2 separate regions of the Homo sapiens genome follow, and region 2 is linked to region 1. A link means that fine-mapping ties the variant in region 1 to the expression of a gene that starts in the linked region. Tissue or cell type: monocytes. Region 1 holds a variant in brackets; the other region holds the start of a gene. All regions are shown on one strand. Distances are between the middles of the regions.

Region 1 (5,150 bases):
GGAACCAAGTACTCGAGCCTCAGCAGTGGCAGAACCCCCTCTCCCTGCCATGCTCCAATGTCGCAGGTTGATCTCAGACTGCTGTGCTAGCAGCAAGCAAGGCTCCATGGGCATGGGACTTGCCGAGGCAGGCACAAGAGGGAATCTCCTGGTCTGTCAGTTGCAAAGACAGTGGAAAAAAGCACAGTATTTGAGCAGGAGTGTACTGCTCCTCCAGGTGCAGTCACTCACAGCTTCCCTTGGCTAGGAAAAAGAAATCCCCCAACCCCTTGCACTTCCCAGGTGAGGTGACACCCCACCCTGCTTTGGCTCATCCTCTATGGGCTGCACCCACTGTTCAACGAGTCCCAGTGAGATGAACCAGGTACCTCAGTTGGAAATGCAGAAATCACCTGTCTTCTGCGTCTATCTCACTTGAAGCTGTAGACCGGAGCTGTTCCTATTCAGCCATCTTGGAAGCAACCCTCTTTTTTTTTTTTTTTGTATTTTGGTAGAGACAGGGTTTCACCATATTGCCCAGACTGGTTTCAAACTCCTGAGGTCAAGCCATTCTATAAAAGAAAATTATATTTGTTTTATCTGAGTTCCTTCCTCAGGAAAGGACTCTCAGTCCTCTCAAAAAGCATCAGAGACCTGAAACTCAGCCAATCACAGCATCCAGACAATGAGATGCCAGTCCCCTCACTCATCACAAGTGCTTCCTCACCCCTCCCTAGTTTCTCTCTTCCCACACACAGTTACATTTCTTCTGTGCTATATAAACCCCTAACTTGAGTCAATCAGGGAGACAGATTTGAGACTCAACTCCTGTCTACTCAGCTGCAGCACCTGATTAAAGCCTTCTTCCTCAGCAATACTCAATGTCTCAATGATTGTCTTTCTGTGTGCTGAGAACACTGAAGCCCTGGGGTTTTGGTAAAAATACATGTACACTTTTAAAAACCGCAATTAATGGGTTGTGGTATATTGAGAAATTGGAGTGGCATCAACTTGGCCAATTCTGAGGAAACACACTGTGCTTAAGTGTGAGGGCCCTGCCTCCTGACCTCGACAGTTTATGGTTGATTTTGAGGCACAGCAGGGGAGTATGGCCTGGTTTGAGTGTTTTATAGAAATGTAAAACATGGCTGATTACTTTTTATTTTAAATCCAACAAATCTCCATTTCTGGTTAGAAAATCTTGCCAAAACCAACCAAACAAATGCATAGAAGTATATGAAGAAGGAAATGAAAGATTCCCTGCCTCCCAATCCCACTTGCTTGGTGTCAGCCATTATTTATCACATGGAGGAAGGGGGAAAGGCACCCAGGAAGTCCCAAGTCCTGTTCTCACAATCATCTGGCCTCCCTGGGCAAAGGGAAAAGAGGGAAGGCAAAAAGAATATAGCACTACGGTTTGCAGAAATTTCCCCTTGGTACAGGAAACTCTGGTAAACTGAGAGAGTATGTTTTCCATGAGGGAGGCCTCAAGGGCTCTTCTCTGGCCCTAAGCCCAAACTGGATTTTGCCTCATTTTCTGAGGTGCAAATGAAATGATAAAAGTTGATCAAAGGAGAGGGCAGAGAGAAAGAGGATGACTCCTCTCTCACAGGTCCACCTTCCTTGGTGTTGCTTGAGGGATCAGAAGAAATGCCTTAACATAGGTGTGTGGGAACTATGGCTGCTAAGTATGAACTCAGTTACCTCCAGTTATAAGCTAGTGTGAGGTTCCATGGTGTAATGGTGAGCACTTTGGACTCTGAATACAGTGATCAGAGTTCAAGTCTCACTGGGACCTTTCTGTATAATTCCAGTGAGGTTCCTCTCTATTGCTCTATAAGCAGAATGGGGGAAATTGCCCAATCATGGTCACAGACCCTCCATGCCACTGGCTGTGTGCAATTGGAGTCCCGGACCCAGCGACCAGCAAGA[C/A]CCCTCCCCTCTCAGGGTGACCCTGGGCCTCCAGGTCACAGGTCTCCACTAAAAAGGCTGCCTCCCCTCAATCCTAGACCCCGAGTTTTCTTTTGTTCACATCATTGGGCCATTGCCCTACATCTCTTTGGAAGAAATGACCTATATGAAAAGCTTTACTTCTGGGATTCCCTAATTCCTTCATCCCTTAGGACAGTGCAGTTTTTCATCTCCTGATCTTGGGTCCAGTACTAAAGCGCGCGTTTGATTTTGTTTTCATGGGATCCCCTCCGACCAGCTACCAGTGGATTCCTGTCCTTGGGGTCTCTGTGGACGGCAACTAGATGCTGCTCTTGTCCCAAATCCTGACACCTCCCTCCAGCCAATTGCCTCCCTTAGCCTCCTAAATCAGCCAATATTTAGATTTGAGCCTGGAATCCCAGCATCTGTGGAGAATAGAGGTTCCTGATCCCTGGCCAGCCTCCCGCAGTGAAGGGGAGAGGAGCAGAGCAGCTGGGAGGGGCAAGTCCAGGGCCCTGGGCAACCGCCTTCTTCCTGCCCAGACTCTGCTCCAAGGAGCAGTTGCCTTAGGACCAGATCAGATGGACACTCTTGTTCTCTTCTCATCAGCAGAAAAATTTAGGCAAGAGCTCTGGAGGACCTTCCTAGCTCATAAAAATGCTGTGGTCAAGTCTCTCCAGTTTTGGAAATGTCCAAGGTTACCAAGTGTTTTGAGGGCTCACTTTGGAGCCTCTGAAAAGGAGGGGTCAGGGCCCATGGAAGGTACCTGAGGGATTCAGGAGAGAGAGGGGAAAGAGCAGACAGGAGGGAGGAGAGAAGGAGGGAGGGGGAGAAAGGGTGTGTGAGGGCCAGGAGCCAGGATTCACCCTGACAGTTCAGTGACTGCTCCCTGACCCCAAAGTTCCCACTGTGGCACCTTCCAGCAGGTGGTTCCCATCTCTTATTGATGTCCTGAGAACTTGGCTCTGCAGAATGGTCCCACCCTATTTGTCTGGCATGAGTCCTGCAAAGTTTCTTTTCATCGTTTGGGGGATGAGATGGGGGTATATAGGTTTGCAAGTGACTAGGAGCTAAGTCAGGACCTTGTGGAGCCACTCAGAGTTAACTGTCAAGTAGCCTCCTTTCCCCCTTCCCTAGCAGGACGATTGCCTGCAAGACAGGGCCTGGAGGAGGCCAGGGCACCCAAGGCCACAGAAATGCCCAGGGATGAGTCCCAGCTGGAGATGCCTTGGCTAAGCTGACTGTGCACTTCCAGGGCTCACAGGGGTCTGGCCAGGAGACTGAGCAAGGGGACCAGGGAGGTTGTGCAGAGGCTTCTGCACAGCAAGGCAGACATTCTTCTTGGAGCCCCCAACCCAAATCAGGTCTTCCACCTCCTCTTCCTAAAGACCCTTTACTGCTGTCGTTCTTTTACTGAACTACAAGTTTAGAGGACATGGATTTCAGTGCCCTCATCTGGCCAACCATCTTCAGCTGCCAATGGACAAGGTAACCTCCCTCCCTGCCAAGACCTGACTCAGGACCTTTCCTTAAGGAGATGTCCTGTTCTTTCTTTCCCACCAGAACTGCCCTGGCCCAGACCCCATTTCTGTCTGGTGACCAGGACAGTCCCCTCACCAGTCTCCCAGGTTGGGGAGGGCAGATTCTCCTCAGCTCCCTGCCCCTGAGAGACCCCAACCGTCTTGTGTGGCTCCGGCCCACAGAGTGATATCCATGGCCCATATCTCTCAAAACTCTCCCCTCCCACTCTGAATCCACCCTCTACTGCATGCTCCCCTCACAGAACAGACTAATTTTTGTGTGTGTGTCCTTGTTTTGCCTACCTGTACCCCAGATAGACTTTTCTGTCTTAGAACTACCTGTCCCTCTTTGGACAGTGTCTTCCTGGTACTGCACATGAAGATGTCCCGCTCTCCCCTGCTCAAGGAGAGAGTGCCTGACCTGAGCTGGGCCCATCAGATCCAGTACTTACCTGGAATAGGAAAACGATGGGGAGGGTGACCAAAGATTGCAAAAATCTTTGAAGCTTATCTACTTGAGAGAGAGTCCCTGAAGATACTGGCCTCTCATTCCTGCTATGTATATCCAATGTGACTGAACTCTGAATAAAATATACAAGTTATAACAATGTAGCAATTGACCCAGCAAATGAGGACACAAACGTGTTGGAGGGTAAGGTGGTGAGAGGCGTGTTTGGGGGTGGTGGTGATGAGCAAGTATGTGAAGGAGAGGTAGTGCCTAAACTTGAAAATCAAAAAGTAATAATATCTATTTAGACATAAGGAGATAAATAACGAAATAATTGCTTCTATGTGATGAAACTCTGGGAGTACACAAGGGGACTGCTACTTTACTAAACAAATTTTCAAGTATATATAACTTTGATAAGGTATCCAAATAAAATAATTCCTTTCCCATATAAGTATGTGTATATATGTATTCATTGTATTTTGAAGATAAATTTTTACACAGTCATGTTAATCGCTTTCATTTAAGGATTTGAGTTTGAGGTCTTGCATACAATGTGATCCCACTGTATGACTACACAAATGTTGGCAAAAGTGAGTTCAGAGGAAGTGGTAGGCAAGTACTTCCCAGTTTTGGCCAGAAGATGGAGAAAAAAATAATTCTCAAAAAATGTTAAAAGTATGACATGTTATATCTTCTTTTCACAGTAATTTAGACAGAAATTAGCAAAATCAAACATGTATAAATACTTTGGTCTGACAATTCCATCTCCAGGTGTCTACGGAGAAATAAACAAGTGATGCACGACAGATACATGTGTCAGTCTGGTCCCTGCAGTTGTATTTGTAATAATACACATTGGAGCAATTTCATGGCCATCAGTTAGAGAATGTTTGAGGAATGATCCATTCATATCAAGAAGGACATTTCAAAGATCAAAGCCTGATGGAAATGCTGGAGACCATGGAGCTGATAGGAGCTCATGCGTGTTGACCAATTACTACGTGACAGGCATTGGCTCCACGCTTTTCCTGCACTGCTCATTTAAACACTGGACAACCTAAGTGTTCTGATTTAGCCCATTGGACAGATAGAAATGGAGGCACAGAAGATTCATGTGTTTAACTTCAAACCCTGGCAGATTAGGTTTTTCATCCAGAGCCTGTGGCTTCACCATAGCTGTGATTCACGTTCTGTCATTCTCCACTTTAGGAATTTCCAGTATTCCAAATATGAGAAGCTGAGAAAACAAACAACAAACTCAAAACCCT
Region 2 (5,150 bases), 200 kb before region 1:
CTCACAGTTCTGAAGGCTGGACCAAGATCAAGGTGCTGGCAGATTCAGTGTCTGGAAGAGCTTGCTCTCTGCTCCCAAGATGGCTCCTTGTTGCCACAGATGCTGTGTCCTCACATGGCTGGAGGGACAGAGGACAAAAGGGACCAGAGCAATCCTTTCAACCTCTTTTTTAAGAGCACTAATCCCATTCATGAGAGTGGAGTGTTCATGCCTTATCACTTCCTAAGACATATTCCTAAAAGGCCCCACCCTGTAGTACTATAACACTCGGTGTTAAGTACCAATGTATGAATTTTGAAGGCATACATACATTCAACCATAGCATAATTCAAAAAAGGAGAATGATAAAGGCAGAAAGCTCTTCATTAAGGCATTATTTATAACAGTCTAATATCAGAAACAGCATAACTATGCAATAGTAGAATATTTTAAGTAATCTATGGTCCTACTAATATTATAAAATATTGTACACTCATTAGAATAATAACTATGAACTTTCCCTAAAAACATGGACAAATATTTACTAAGTGAAAGAAGGAGAATATAAACATATACCTAAGCTGTAATCGTAATTATGTAAATAGATATTTAATATATATAGATAATGACTAAAGGGAATTTGGAGAAATTTAAACATTTGTGCTGTAGCAGTGGTTATATGGGTGAATATTTTTCTTCTGAAATCTAACGCAAAAAAATTGTTCTTTTGACAATAAGTATAATTTTTAAAACAACAAGGAAATTTCTCTTCTCAAGAATATACCCATGTGTGTAAGAAAGAGTTGGTGTTTGGATTAAAAGATGCATTTTTTAAAGAGTGGGAAAAAAATGCAACACATTTTTAATATTGAAGATCCCTGGGTATTCTGAGTAATCTATATAACTTTCTGTATTTTTCAAATGTTTTTACAATGAATGTGCTATAAACTTTTGAAAAAAGTTATTTTAAAAATACATGAACGTATTTTCTAGCGTCACTTCTGAGACCCCACAGCTCACCTAGTTAGTGCTATCATTTCTTGAATCCAGTGAGCTGCCTGTAGACAGAGTTCCTCTCCACAACTCGGTAGCCCATAATTTGATTTGAGACAAAGCTAAATATAGCCCCAACTTTGGTATGAAGGATGGGAATCTGACTCTCCCTGCCTTTTCTTCCCCCCCATCAGAGGCAACAGGATATTCTTTTCAAGACAGGTGGCCTGTGAGCCTTGTCTAAGATCAAACTGGACCTTGAAATTTTTCCTGGTAACATTTTGAGCTCTGGAGCAGTGTGGTCCTACCAATAAATCAAGTGTTGGAGGAGTCTAGACTAGGGGCTTTTTAGACAGTTCTGCTAAACCTTCAAATGTTTTGTTATCCTCCCCTCCCCACCCCTACTTTGTACTAGTATGTAGGGGAACCAATCCAAGAGATAACAGACAGATGACAGGTTCCCCCAAGAACACAGACTCCCCACAGTCTCACCAATACCCAGGCATGCCAGGTTCTTCCTGAGTTAAATGCCTAGGAGGCCTGAAAGAATAAATTCATCCTGGAGAAGTCTTGTGGGTCGTAGCTTTAGAAATTCAGGGAACATATCTCTGGGGCCACCCAATGGAGAACACAGCCTGTATCAGAACCTTAGCAGAGACTTTGGGCCTTTTGGGGTCTCAAATTTATCATCTCTGAAACAAGTACAACGAAATTAACATTGCCACATGTGGGCACTATAAAGCCTTTTTCAGATAAAAAAAAAGGTCAGTGATAGTGCTAATAATAACAGTGATTATGTCATTTAATAAAACGGTCTTATTTGAAAGCTAAAAAGGAGCTTCAGGGTGGCAAGCACTCTAATTATAGTATGTCTGCCTTGTTTAAATCTTGATACATAAGTACATGGTACAGGGCCTGAGGCAATGCCATCTCCAAAGAGGCCTTTTCCATGATCTTAAAACAGTCACAAGGGAGTGTCGAGGTCCTGATGGCTACTGTCTTGAGGCTTTTCTAGTGTTCTGGGAGTCAGGAAGCTTCTCCCTCCTTGAAGCTATTGGTAGAGCCCAGTTGCTGGCGAAACTGAAAAACGAGGAGGTAGAATACCCTAAAACAGGAGATGTCTGGGATACAGGCAGCTAATAGGGCTGTAAGGTTTTGTTGGGATGCTTCCCTTCCTGATGAAGGGTCCTGTCCCTGGATTAATGGTGAAACTGGCATGTCACATCTCTAGGAAGACAACATCGTGTTCCATGACCACGTAGGGTATACATCTGCATTCAGCCGGGATTGCTCCTAAACCTTCCTAGACTCCATCTCTGGCTCTGGGGTTACCTGTGGGTGGGGCGATGCAGACACACAAGAAAACCTCCTCTACAAATTCTTCCTGTAGTTGGTTGATTGTATTCTAAGACCTTCGTTGGGATGGGCGAGGGACGGGGCTTGGTACCGCGTCCTCTAAGCTCTCTGCCCTCTGCCGTCATCATTCATCTGAGCCAGCGAGAGAGGGGTCGGGGAGACGCGAGGGTGGTTCAGGGGGCGTGTAACCTGGGCCGATTCTGCCCCAGCACACTGGTTGTCGGGAGCCCCGCCTCCGCTCGCGGTTGACAGCTCAGCTGGTGCCGAGCAACTCGTGCCAGCCAGTCGTGTCTCAGCCTGGAGAGTGCGCGCACCGCGGCCCGGGCAGCCGCTGGCTCCAGCTCACGAAACAGCCCCGGGCGCCGCGCCGCTCTGAGTCCAGCCTCCTACTGAGAACAGTCCCTCCCTTGTGCGGGTCGCACGGCTAGCCGCAGGTTCGGCCACGTCAAATCCATTTTCTAAAAAAGCAGGGAGCAGAGCTCTCTCTTCGCCGCCGACGCAGAAAGGAGCTGGGGAGGAAAAAGCTGCTGCCTTTTGCGCTGGAGATTCGTGGGCAAGGCTTCTCATTTTCCCAGGCTGCTTCCCCTCCCGGGTGAGGAGCGTCCTGAGACTAAGGAAAGAGCCTGGAAAATGGAGCAGACCTGGACGAGGTAGGTGGGCTGTTTCCTTCTCGCCGCGCTCCAGACTTGGTGGTCCTCCTCCCTCCCCTCCCCCAGCGCCCTTAGGGAGAGAGAGGTCGCCCCTCACCACCAGGGTCCCGTGACAGCTTCCCTTTTCTGTAGCCTCGCCCTGCCTGGTTCCCAGCCCACCTCTCTTGGTCATTTTCACATGTTCTGTTTTACGGGGTTTCCCTTGCTTAATGACTCTCCCCTCCACCGAGTCCTGATGTTAAAAATACCCAGGGAGGCCGCCTGGAACTTTCTGTAGAAATGGTTCTCTGTCGTTTCCTTGTTCGTGTGGCTAGAGGGATTCCAGTAGGTCTTCTTGAGAGATATGTTTGATGTCAGATGCTTTGAACAATATCAGGTTTATTCTCACCCTGCCACGTTTTCCTTCTCAGCCTCATCTGTCACTACTCACACAAAGGCAAAGGGACTGAGTGAGCAGAGCCCAGCAGCACTCATCTCCACAACCTCCAGTTGGAGCCCACTTGGGGGAGGAATGGAGAAGGAAAGAGATCAGGGCACCACACTGCTCAGGCTTTATTGAGGCCAGGCAACAGTTGGCTTTTAGGTCAGATTTTGGAGATGGCCTGTGAAACTGCGTTTTCTTCCAGTCCTTCCCCCAGACACACTTTAAAATGAAGCCCCATTCAAGGAAAGGGTAAGGATAAGAGACCATGTATTGAGACAAAGACTTCGTTTCTGTTTTTTAGTGGGTGGGAGGGTAGGGAGACTATTCCAGCGGTGTCTCTATAACAGATACGCTTCCATCTGTGGGATTTAGCTTTGGAGAATTGGGGTGGGGCCAAATGAGCGCTCTGACTCCTGAGAGAGTGAAGACGGTACAAACACAGAAGGTAAATTTGGGGCTTATGCAAAAGACTTGGGTGCTTTTAGTTGATTGCTAAGCTCAACAGGAGTGAATGGTATAATGTGAATATTAAAGAAGGAGCAAATTGAAGCTTAGGGTTTGTTGACAGAAGAAGTAGGCTGTCTAGATTCTGTCTAGATCAAAAGTGATGATTTTACTTTTGGCTCCTTTCTGCTCCTCTTGGGCCTCTCCGAGAGGGCTGTGCTTAGTTCTGGGCATCATTAGATAAAATAAGTACAATCAAGAGACAGGAGGGAACTCAAAGCCATGCCTTGAGGGATGGCCAAAGGAAGGACCTGGGACTCCTGAGTCCGGAGAAATGACGACTGGGAGTGGGGAGGATGTGGTAGCTTCCTTCAAATTTCCGAAGAGCTATTGGTGGTAGAGGGATTGAATCACATTAGAATCTCTTAGGAGGACAGAACAACCGATGCAAGCGAGTTGTTGGGAGGCGAGTTATGGCTCAGTGTAAAGAAAAAGCTTTCTGGCCAGGTGCAGTGGCTCATGCCTGTAATCCCAGCACTTTGGGAGGCTGAGGCAGGCGGATCACCTGAGGTCGGGAGTTCGAGACCAGCCTGACCAACATGGAGAAACCCCATCTCTACTAAAATACAAAATTAGCCGGGCGTGGTCGCACGTGCCTGTAATCCCAGCTACTCCGGAGGCTGAGGCAGGAGAATCGCTTGAACCCGGGAGGAGAAGTTTGTGGTGAGCCGAGATCAAGCCATTGCACTCCAGCCTGGGCAACAAAAGCGAAACTCCGCCTCAAAAAAAAAAAAAAAAAAAAAAAAAAAAAAGACCAGGCGAGGTGGCTCACGCCTGTAATTGCAGTACTTTGGGAGGCTGAGGGGGGCGGATTACGAGGTCAGGAGATTGAGACCATCCTGGCTAACACAGTGAAGCCCCGTCTCTACTAAAAACACAAAAAAAATTAGCCGGGCGTGGTGGCGGGCGCCTGTAGTACCAGCTACTTGGGAGGCTGAGGTAGGAGAATGGCGTGAACCCGGGAAGCGGAGCTTGCAGTGAGCCGAGATCGCGCCACTGCACTCCAGCCTGGGCGACAGAGCGAGACTCCGTCTCAAAAAAAAATTAAAAAAAAGCTTTCTAACAAGTTAGCTGCCTGGGCAGTATGGGCAGTAAAGAGATTGTTGACCCTGGAGTTACTCAGGCAAAGGCTAGATGACCACTTGATGGTGATGGGAGTGAGTGTATCAGGGCCTTTTGCTCTCTGCCAGTGTTTTTCACACTTGAAGAAAAAAGTATTATTTATTAAGTTTTAAAAATTTTAT

What was found. PIP is the estimated chance that this variant, and not a neighbour inherited with it, causes the effect.
Region 2: PDE4DIP starts here. The variant in region 1 is fine-mapped to the expression of PDE4DIP in monocytes (TOPMed, PIP above 0.99).

Annotation. Positions count from the first base shown.
Region 1 is chr1:149,043,232-149,048,381 of GRCh38, forward strand. No RefSeq gene overlaps it. Among named protein-coding and RNA genes, the nearest start is that of NBPF9, 58 kb to the right of the region's middle. The variant C/A (reference allele first, on the strand shown) is at 1,912.
Region 2 is chr1:148,841,817-148,846,966 of GRCh38, forward strand. PDE4DIP (phosphodiesterase 4D interacting protein) reads left to right here and starts at 2,612. Exons shown (of 47, transcript NM_001395426.1): 1 at 2,612-2,978. The coding sequence starts at 2,959. RefSeq lists enhancers at 2,061-2,782, 2,783-3,505.